3 separate regions of the Homo sapiens genome follow, and regions 1 and 2 are each linked to region 3. Evidence: fine-mapped expression QTL. A gene starts in region 3. Each other region holds a variant in brackets. All regions are shown on one strand. Distances are between the middles of the regions. Region 1 overlaps PRR11 (proline rich 11). Region 2 overlaps MTMR4 (myotubularin related protein 4). Region 3 holds the start of RAD51C (RAD51 paralog C).

Region 1 (2,759 bases), 480 kb before region 3:
CACAGTCTTGAGTCTTGGTGCCCACCTGTTTTTTTTTTTTTTTCGAGACAGTATCTAGCTGTGTTCCACAGGATGGAGTGCAGTGGCATGATCACAGCTCACCACAGCCTCTAATTCCTGGGCTCTTGCAATCCTGCCTCAGCCTCCTGAGCAGTTGGGAGTACAGGCACATGCCATCATGCTCGAATAATTTTTATACAAACAGTCTTGCTATGTTGCCCAGGTTGTTCTAGAACTGTTGGACTCACTTGATCCTCCTGTCTCAGCCTCTCAAACTTCTGGGATCACAGGCTTGAGCTGCCACTCCCGGCTATTCTTGGTCTTTTTATTATTTGTCAGCATCTCCCTCAGGACTCTGCTGGTCTCTTGCTGAGTGAATGAGTGGCCCCTGCCTCTCCTATGGGTCATTTGGGATCTGAGCTCTGGGCCACAGTCAGGCCGCAGCCCTGAAGCTCCTAGCCCCTTTACTCTCAGTTCTTTGGGACAGTTCTCTGCCTGGCACACAAAAGACCCTCCTGATACCAGCCGACCTAGACACACTCCTTCAAAGATCTCATCAGAGCCCACCATCCTGGGAGCATCACCAACATGCCTTCCTCCAGCTTCTCGGATTTGCATCCGACCTTCAAATACCCCACCACCCCGCAATTTCCACATGAGCACAGTCACCCCAACACTCAGGTCCCTTCTCTGATGGGCAAACCCTCCCTAGACCCCCATTCCACTGTCTCCACGATCTTCCTCTCCCAAGATGTGACCTCTCCCTTTCTGTGTTCCTTTCTCTCCACCAGTATCTCCTGGCTATGGTCATAGCATATTTTAGCCGCGCCGGCCTCTTCTCCCGGCAATACCAATGCATTCATTTATTCCTGGCTCTGTGAGTGGTTTGCTTCCTCCTATCTGTCAATATCCAATACCCTGGGACAGCGGGGGAAGTGGGATTCCAGCCTTTCATTTATTCTTGCACCTATTTGTCCTCTTTACTCTGTGTACAAAAAAGAGGATTATACTATCTTGTTTTTAGACTGCTGTTTCTAAAAAGAAACTCAGGCTGGGCGCGGTGGCTCACGCCTATAATCCCAGCACTTCGGGAGGCCGAGGCAAGCAGATCACTTGAGGTCAGGAGTTTGAGACCAGCCTGACTAACATGGCAAAACCCCATCTCTACTAAAAATAGAAAAATTAGCCAGGCATGGTGGTGTGCACCTGTAATCCAAACTACTCGGGAGGCTCAGGCAAGAGAACCCGTTGAACCCAGGAGGCAGACATTGCAGTAAGCTAAGTTTGAGCCACTGCATTCCAGCCTGGGCAACAGAGCGAGACTTTTTCTCAAAAAAAAAAAAAAAAAAAAAAAAAAAAAAGCCAAAAAAACCAAATTCCAACGCCAGTGTACAAATAAAAGAATAAAACAAAAGGAACCATAAACCGCTCCTAAGGGGAGAAGAAAAGGAGCAAAGGAGCGGACACGATGCTTCCCCCAGCAAGCAGACATTTCTGGTTCTTCTGTCTCTCTCCTTCCCATATCAACTGCAAA[C/T]GCCATCGACCTCCTCCGGGTTCCCATGACAGAGGCAACAGTTCAGGTCCCCCTTGCATCACTCGAATCCACTGTCAAATGCTCCCTGCTGGGGCCTCCTGGAGTCTCTCCCCAAGCCTGGGGGCTTCCTAGTGCAGCCTGAGCGTCTTTCCAAAGCACAACACCCTCACTGCCCACCTGAACAACTTCCTTAGCTGATGTCTTTCTAAATTGAGGCCAGGGTCCACAGTGCAAATTCCACCCTCTCTATAATCTCTACAACCAAACTGGCTCGCCATCTTGGTGTTTCCTGGTGTGGCTTCACCGCTCTTTCCAAATGCCCTCCACTCGACTTTGCGTTTGTGTTTTCTGTCTGGGTGTCCCGCACACATGTGGTTCTGAAGGGAAGGACCCATTCCTTAAAGTCAGTTCACCCCATAGCCTCTGTGATGCCTTCCCTCATCTTGCAACTTTTACATGCTTGTAGCTCTCCAGTTACATCCTATTATAATGTGATATTGGGATTACGTCATCTGCCCTGATTACTCCCAGTCCCATTAGACTAGATGCCTGTAGAAGGCAGGGTCTTGGCACAATATCAATGTATTCAATTTCTTTTATTTTTTTGAGACAGACTTGCCCTGTCCCCCAAGCTGGAGTGCAGTGGTGAGATCATAGCTCACTGCAGCCTCCATATCCTGTACTCCAGTGATCCTCCCACCTCAGCCTCCGGATTAGCTTTGACTACAGGGCTGTGACACCACACCTGGACAGTTATTTATTTATTTATTGAGACAGAGTCTTGTTCTGCCTCTGAGGCTGGAATGGAGTGGCCCAATCTCGGCTCACTGCAACCTCCTCCTCCTGGGTTCATGTAATTCTTGTGCCTCAGCCTCTTGCGTAGCTAGGACTAAGAGGTGTGCCACCACACCAGGCTGATTTTTGTATCTTTAGTAGATATGGGGCTGGTCTCGAACTCCTGGCCTCAAGCGACCCACCTGCTTCAGCCTCCCAAATTGCTGGGATTACAGGCATGAGCCACCACGTCTGGCGTGTCTTTTACATTTTTTATAGAGACGAGGGTCTTGCTATGTTGCCCAGGCTCATCTCAAACTCCTGGCCTCAAATGATCCTCCTGCCTCAGCCTCCCAATGTGCTGGGATTCCAGGCGTAAGCCACCACTCTCGGCCACCAGTTGGGTTTTTGTCTTCATCCTGAAGGAGTGGGAGACGCCCTTCAGCAGGTC
Region 2 (2,759 bases), 180 kb after region 3:
GCGTCGGTGAAGGCCCTCTAGAGGCGTGGGACTGAATCCCCCCACCCACTCCTCTTTGTCTCCTTCACCCACCAGATTGAAGCTTCAGTGGCTTGTAGGCGCCTGATTTCCCTTCTCTCTGAAACCAGCTGCCATACCTGGCTCCTTTTCCTCAGGACAGCACTTTCCCATCCCCACTCCTGCCTTACCCTTATGCGGGTCTAAGGGAAAGAGTCTTTCTTTTCCTTAGTTTTCTCTCCTCCATTTTTGAAATGTTGGTTCTATAGGAGAGTCCCTCTTTGAAGAGTGCAGATTCCCAATTCCTCCTGGGGCCTCACTCTTTCCTTAGGCTTAATAGGCTGATATGCTCTCCATTTCACCCTTCCCTGTCTCCAACCAAGTCAGATCTCTTTTCCCTTCTCTGGTGACCAGAACCTTTAGAGGTGTGTGTGTGTGGGTATCTGTGGATTTCTTGGTGGGGAGAGGAGCAGAATGAGCCTGATGGGCTAAGTGGAGCTTGGTGACTTAGGACTGTGGCCTTCCTACAGGGTGAGGAGGGGCCCCCCAGCCTGGAGTACATCCAAGCCAAGGATCTGTTCCCCCCCAAGGAACTAGTGAAGGAGGAAGAGAATCTTCAGGTAAGGAGGAGTTGGGGGCCAGGATAGATGGGGCTCCCTGCCCAGTTAAAAAACACCCTCCCTTCTCCCAAAAATCCTCAAGGGCATCTGGTACCAGAGCTCTGGCTTCATGTTCCCTGGTCTCTGGAGGAGGAGGGTTTGTCTGCGCATCCTGGAGCCTTTGGCCGCAGGGAAGGAAAGGCAGCTTTCCTGTACAGCTGTTGCCTGGTGCTGTTACCGTGGAGAGAACTCTCCTCTCTTGCCTTGGCCCACCTTTTCCAGAGGGGATCCCACAGATCAGGGGCTGTAGAAGAGGATAAGGTGGTCACTCACTTCTGGACTGAAGGTTTCTCTGCCCCTTGACAGGTCCCCTTCACAGTGCTGCAGGGTGAGGGAGTAGAGTTCCTGGGCCGGGCAGCCGATGCCCTCATTGCCATCTCTAACTACCGGCTGCATATCAAATTCAAGGACTCTGTCATCAACGTGAGTTTCTGTATTGTTCTCCTACCCCTAAGCTAGAATCCCTATGAAGTTCAAGGTGGGATTGTTCCAAGGCTGTCCTTGATCATGTCATTAAAAAAGTTGGAGGCCGGGCGCAGTGGCTCACGCCTGTAATCCCAGCACTTTGGGAGGCCGAGGCGGGTGGATCACTTGAGGTCAGGAGTTCGAGACCAGCCTGGCCAACATGGTGAAACTGTGTCTCTACTAACAATACAAAAATTAGTCGGGCTTGGTGGTGCGCACCTGTAATCCCACCTACTCGGGGGCTGAGGTACGGGAATCACTTGAACCTGGGAGGTGGAGGTTGCAGTGAGCCGAGATTGTGC[C/T]ACTGCTGTCCAGCTTGGGTGACAGGGTGAGACTACCTCTCAAAAAAATAAAAAAAAAAAAGTTGGGGATCCCTTCTGTTTCTCTCTGACCTCATGTTTTCCTGCCTCATTTTCCTAGCTCTGTTTCTGGCTCATTCTCCTTTCTCCTCTTCTCTCTTTCCATTATTCTATTACTGGCCCTTCTAAGGAGCACAGTGGCATTGTTGGAAGAACACAGGCTTTGGAGTCAGGCAAACCTGGGCTCTTTTCCTGCGTTGCCACTCACCAGCTGGGTGACCTTGGTCAAGTCACCTAACTGAGGCTTGATTTTTCTCCTCGTAATATGGGCTGAAAGCACCTGCTGTGCAACGTTATTGGGATCATTAATTGGGATCACATATGCAGAGGACTCCGTACAGTTACCAGGTGCTTAACAGACCCTCAGTAAATGTTGGTTTCCTTCCTGCTATTGATACATTAGTGCCTACGCTAGGGTGAGGGTGAGGAGTGGTACCCAGTGGGGAGTCTGAGCTTCAGTTTGCCCTTCCTCTACAGGTCCCCCTCCGGATGATTGACAGTGTGGAGAGCCGTGATATGTTCCAGTTGCACATTTCCTGCAAGGACTCCAAAGTGGTGAGGTGAGAACAACGGAGCCTCACTCAGGTCCCCTGGCCCTAGTCTTGTCCAGTTCTCTGTGCTGCAGGGTTTCTCTGGTGCAAGAGAGGAAAGATCCTGCCTCACTTTCCCCAGTTGGAAGAAAAGGTGAAGACCATGTTCTGGGTTGGGAGGTCAGTTTACTGACCCATAGGATCTTGACCTGAAAAAATGGGGGTAATGCCTAGTTCATGGAGTCATCGTAAGGATTAAGTGAGATAATGTGTATGTGTATGAAAGCACCGAGGACAATATCTGGCACAGAGCACTCATATTATTGTTGGTTTATTTATTTATTCATTTGATATACATGTATTGAGTACCCTACTCAATGCCAGCCTGTTTTAAGCCCTGGGGATACAGCAGGGAACAAATAGACAAAATTTTGCCGCCTCAGAGAGCTTACATTCCAATGAGGAGATACCAACCGTAAGTAATAAGTAAAATTTGTGAAATGATAGTAAGTGTAAAGGAAAAAAATAAAGCAGGGAAAGGGAATAAGGAGTGCTATGAGGGTGAAGATTGTAAAACAATCAGGCTGGGCACGGTGGTTCACGCCTGTAATACCAGCACTTCGGGTGGCCAAGGTGGGAAGATCCCTTCAGCTTAGGAGTTCAAGATCAGCCTGGGCAACATAGCGAGACCCCATCTCTACTAAAAATAGAAAAAATTAGCCAGGTGTGGTGATGCGTGGGGAGATCGC
Region 3 (2,713 bases):
TGGGGGACACAGTCTGCGCGCGGTATGACTTAAACAGTTAAGGCTGGGTCCACGAGACTTATTCTTTAGAGGCGAATTGAAACCTCTGTATTTTCCATCAGTAAGGGCAGTAACTTAAAATTCTGTTCCATCTTCTTCAGTGAATAGCACAGGTCCAGACATGTCATAGAGAGATGTGCACAACAAGTGACCACCGCCAGCCTCATATTTGTATGTCTCAGGATGCAGTGGTTCCCATCTGCAATGCTCTGGAATATGAGGTTTTGGGTGTTTCAGTTAATTACGTAAGAGAATATTCTTTCTATGCTTCCTCAAGATTCCGGGGATTCTACTCTCTTTCTCATTCTTAGTGTCTCTAGTCCTACACAAAATCCTGCATTTCTGAAATTTAACCCTTACCCCTTGGATCTTGGAACAGCAAAAATTAGACAACCAATTCTGACTCCAGTATTTCCTAACCCAGTTAGCATGAAAAGTTACCTAAGCTCCCCAAGATATCAGTTCTCTCATCCATATACTGAATATAATAATCTACGTAAGCGGGTTGAGGGTTAAATGAGACAATCCTCAAAGCATTCAGCAGGCATTGCCAGAGGAAAAGCAATTAGTAAATGTTTTCACGACCACAGTTCTCCTAACCATTCAGACAACTTGTAAGTGGAGTCGAGGAGCTCTTTCACGCTGTAAACATGGACGTGGGAGGAAGCAGAATCTAACGGAGACTGGGCTGAAGGCCGAGGCGAGAGAACGAAGACTGAGGCGGCGCTGACGGCGGCCGGTGTGCCTCAGCTTGCCATCAGGAGTCGTTACCTTTGCTAAGCTCGGAGGGTTTCACCTCTAGGAGTTCCTCAGCAGTCTGGAACCCCGCAGACACCAGCTTCACCCGCACCGCTGGAGACAGCGGGAAACTCACCAAATCCCGCTGCATTTCAAAGCGGAACGTCTTCCCGCGCATCGCAGGCTCACCTGCTAACCCCGGAGCAGCCAAACTCCGCACGCCCTCGCTGGGGCGTGCGGCGTGACGTCAGACGTAAAGCGGAAGGGGCCGGCTCTGCGGCCTGGCCGCACGGGGCTCCGGGCCTTGCAGCTTTGCGCAGTCTTGTAAATTTTCACACTTATGCACCATTCCGTTTTGATTCCCCAAAATCCCATTTAGAGATTCCTCATCAAATGTACACCCTGACTGTAAAACGATGGACGGAGACCATAGGACGGAGAGCCAGGCCCAGTGGGTTCTCCACGCCACATTTCCTTGCCTCCACCGTGGCCTGTTAGGTGAAGCCTCAGAGTCATTAATAGGAATGATCTCGAGTGGGAGTAGTGAGCGTAACGGGCACACACTAGCCAGTTACCATTATTTTGGTGTGAAAAGCTCAGGGAACAATCATTAGAATTAATCTGCGTGCTCTTTGTAGAGTTGCAGTCTCTTGGCTCTTCCCGCTGACCGTCCCCCTTTTCTGACCCCCCCCCCCCGCAACGACCACATTGCTTTTCCCGCCCTCGCGAGGGATTGTGGGCCAGCCCCCAACGGCCGCTGGGAGGGATCAGTCCGCATTCCCCGCACCCACCCACGTCTTCCCGGGAGTCGTATCCCGAGCATGGAGGTTACTGAGACCGTTATTTCTTCATGGCCTGCCTAGCTTAAGCAGTAGCTGGAAAAGTAAGCAACTAATGTCCCCATTAGTGTGTCTGGGCTCCTGGGGTCCTGAGAAGGAGGGGCTGGGCTACACAAGAGCTCCTTTTGTGGTACAGACTTGGGAAGGGGTGTTCAAGCAGTGGTAGTGACCGCCTCTAAATTACAGAACTTCGGGGAGGAAGGCAAGCAGTTTAGAAGGTGGTTTATGAGTTCCTTCCTTGCCTAGGTGAGTGTAACTTATTTAGCAGGGGGTAACTTATTCCCTACCTATTGGCGATTTTTTTTTTTTTTTTTTTGAGACAGAGTCTCACTGTGTTGCCCATGATGGAGTGCAGTGGCACGATGTCGGCTCACTGCAACCTTCGCCTCCCGGGTTCAAGTGAGTCTCCTGCCTCAGCCTCTTGAGTACCTGGGATTACAGGCGCACGCCACCATGCCCGGCTAATTTTTGTATTATTATTAGAGAAGGGGTTTCACCATATTGGCCAGGCTGGTCTCGAACTCCTGACCTCGTGATCCGCCTGCCTCGGCCTCCCAAAATGCTGGGAGTACAGGCGTGAGCCACCGCGCCCGGCCCTGTTGGCAATGATTCTTAGTCTTGACTTTTCTTCCCAGCTTAGAAGAACTTTCTAAATATTGCAAATCAGAGCCCTCTACATACTTAGATCTAAAAAAGGAAACAACGTATGTTGAGCACTTTAGCAAATCCCACACATTTCAAATGGCCATAGCCATGCCAAAAGGAAGATAAGGACATGGAAGCTCAGCATATAGTTTAATATCAATTCTGATAAAAGAAAAAAAGCTGGCCGGGCGCAGTGGCTCGTGCCTGTAATCCCAGCACTTTGGGAGGTCGAGGCAGGTGGATCTCTTTGAGCTCATGAGTTTGAGACCAGCCTCGACAACATGGCGAAACACTGTCTGTACCAAAAGTACAAAAAATTAGCCGGGCATGGTGGCATGCACCGGTCGTCCCAGCTACTCAGAAGTCTGTGGTGGGAGGATCCCTTCAGCCTGGGAGTGAGCTATGATCACGCCACTGCACTCCAGCTTGGGTGATAGAGTGAAACCCTGTCT

The links.
Region 1: its variant is fine-mapped to the expression of RAD51C in sun-exposed skin (GTEx, PIP 0.98).
Region 2: its variant is fine-mapped to the expression of RAD51C in T cells (TOPMed, PIP 0.97).

The regions. Positions count from the first base shown.
Region 1 is chr17:59,175,287-59,178,045 of GRCh38, reverse strand. All of the region lies in intron 2 of PRR11 (proline rich 11), which reads right to left. It also overlaps the pseudogene SPDYE22P. Among named protein-coding and RNA genes, the nearest start is that of PRR11, 21 kb to the right of the region's middle. The variant C/T (reference allele first, on the strand shown) is at 1,535.
Region 2 is chr17:58,510,710-58,513,468 of GRCh38, reverse strand. MTMR4 (myotubularin related protein 4) reads left to right here. Exons shown (of 18, transcript NM_001378067.1): 2 at 528-617; 3 at 963-1,079; 4 at 1,958-2,040. Among named protein-coding and RNA genes, the nearest start is that of MTMR4, 2.5 kb to the left of the region's middle. RefSeq lists an enhancer at 1-27. The variant C/T (reference allele first, on the strand shown) is at 1,424.
Region 3 is chr17:58,690,886-58,693,598 of GRCh38, reverse strand. RAD51C (RAD51 paralog C) reads right to left here and starts at 997. Exons shown (of 9, transcript NM_058216.3): 1 at 811-997. The coding sequence starts at 955. TEX14 (testis expressed 14, intercellular bridge forming factor) reads left to right here and starts at 1,554. Exons shown (of 32, transcript NM_031272.5): 1 at 1,554-1,660. IGBP1C (IGBP1 family member C) reads left to right here and starts at 1,554. Exons shown (of 2, transcript NM_001395966.1): 1 at 1,554-1,660. RefSeq lists enhancers at 640-809, 1,140-1,239.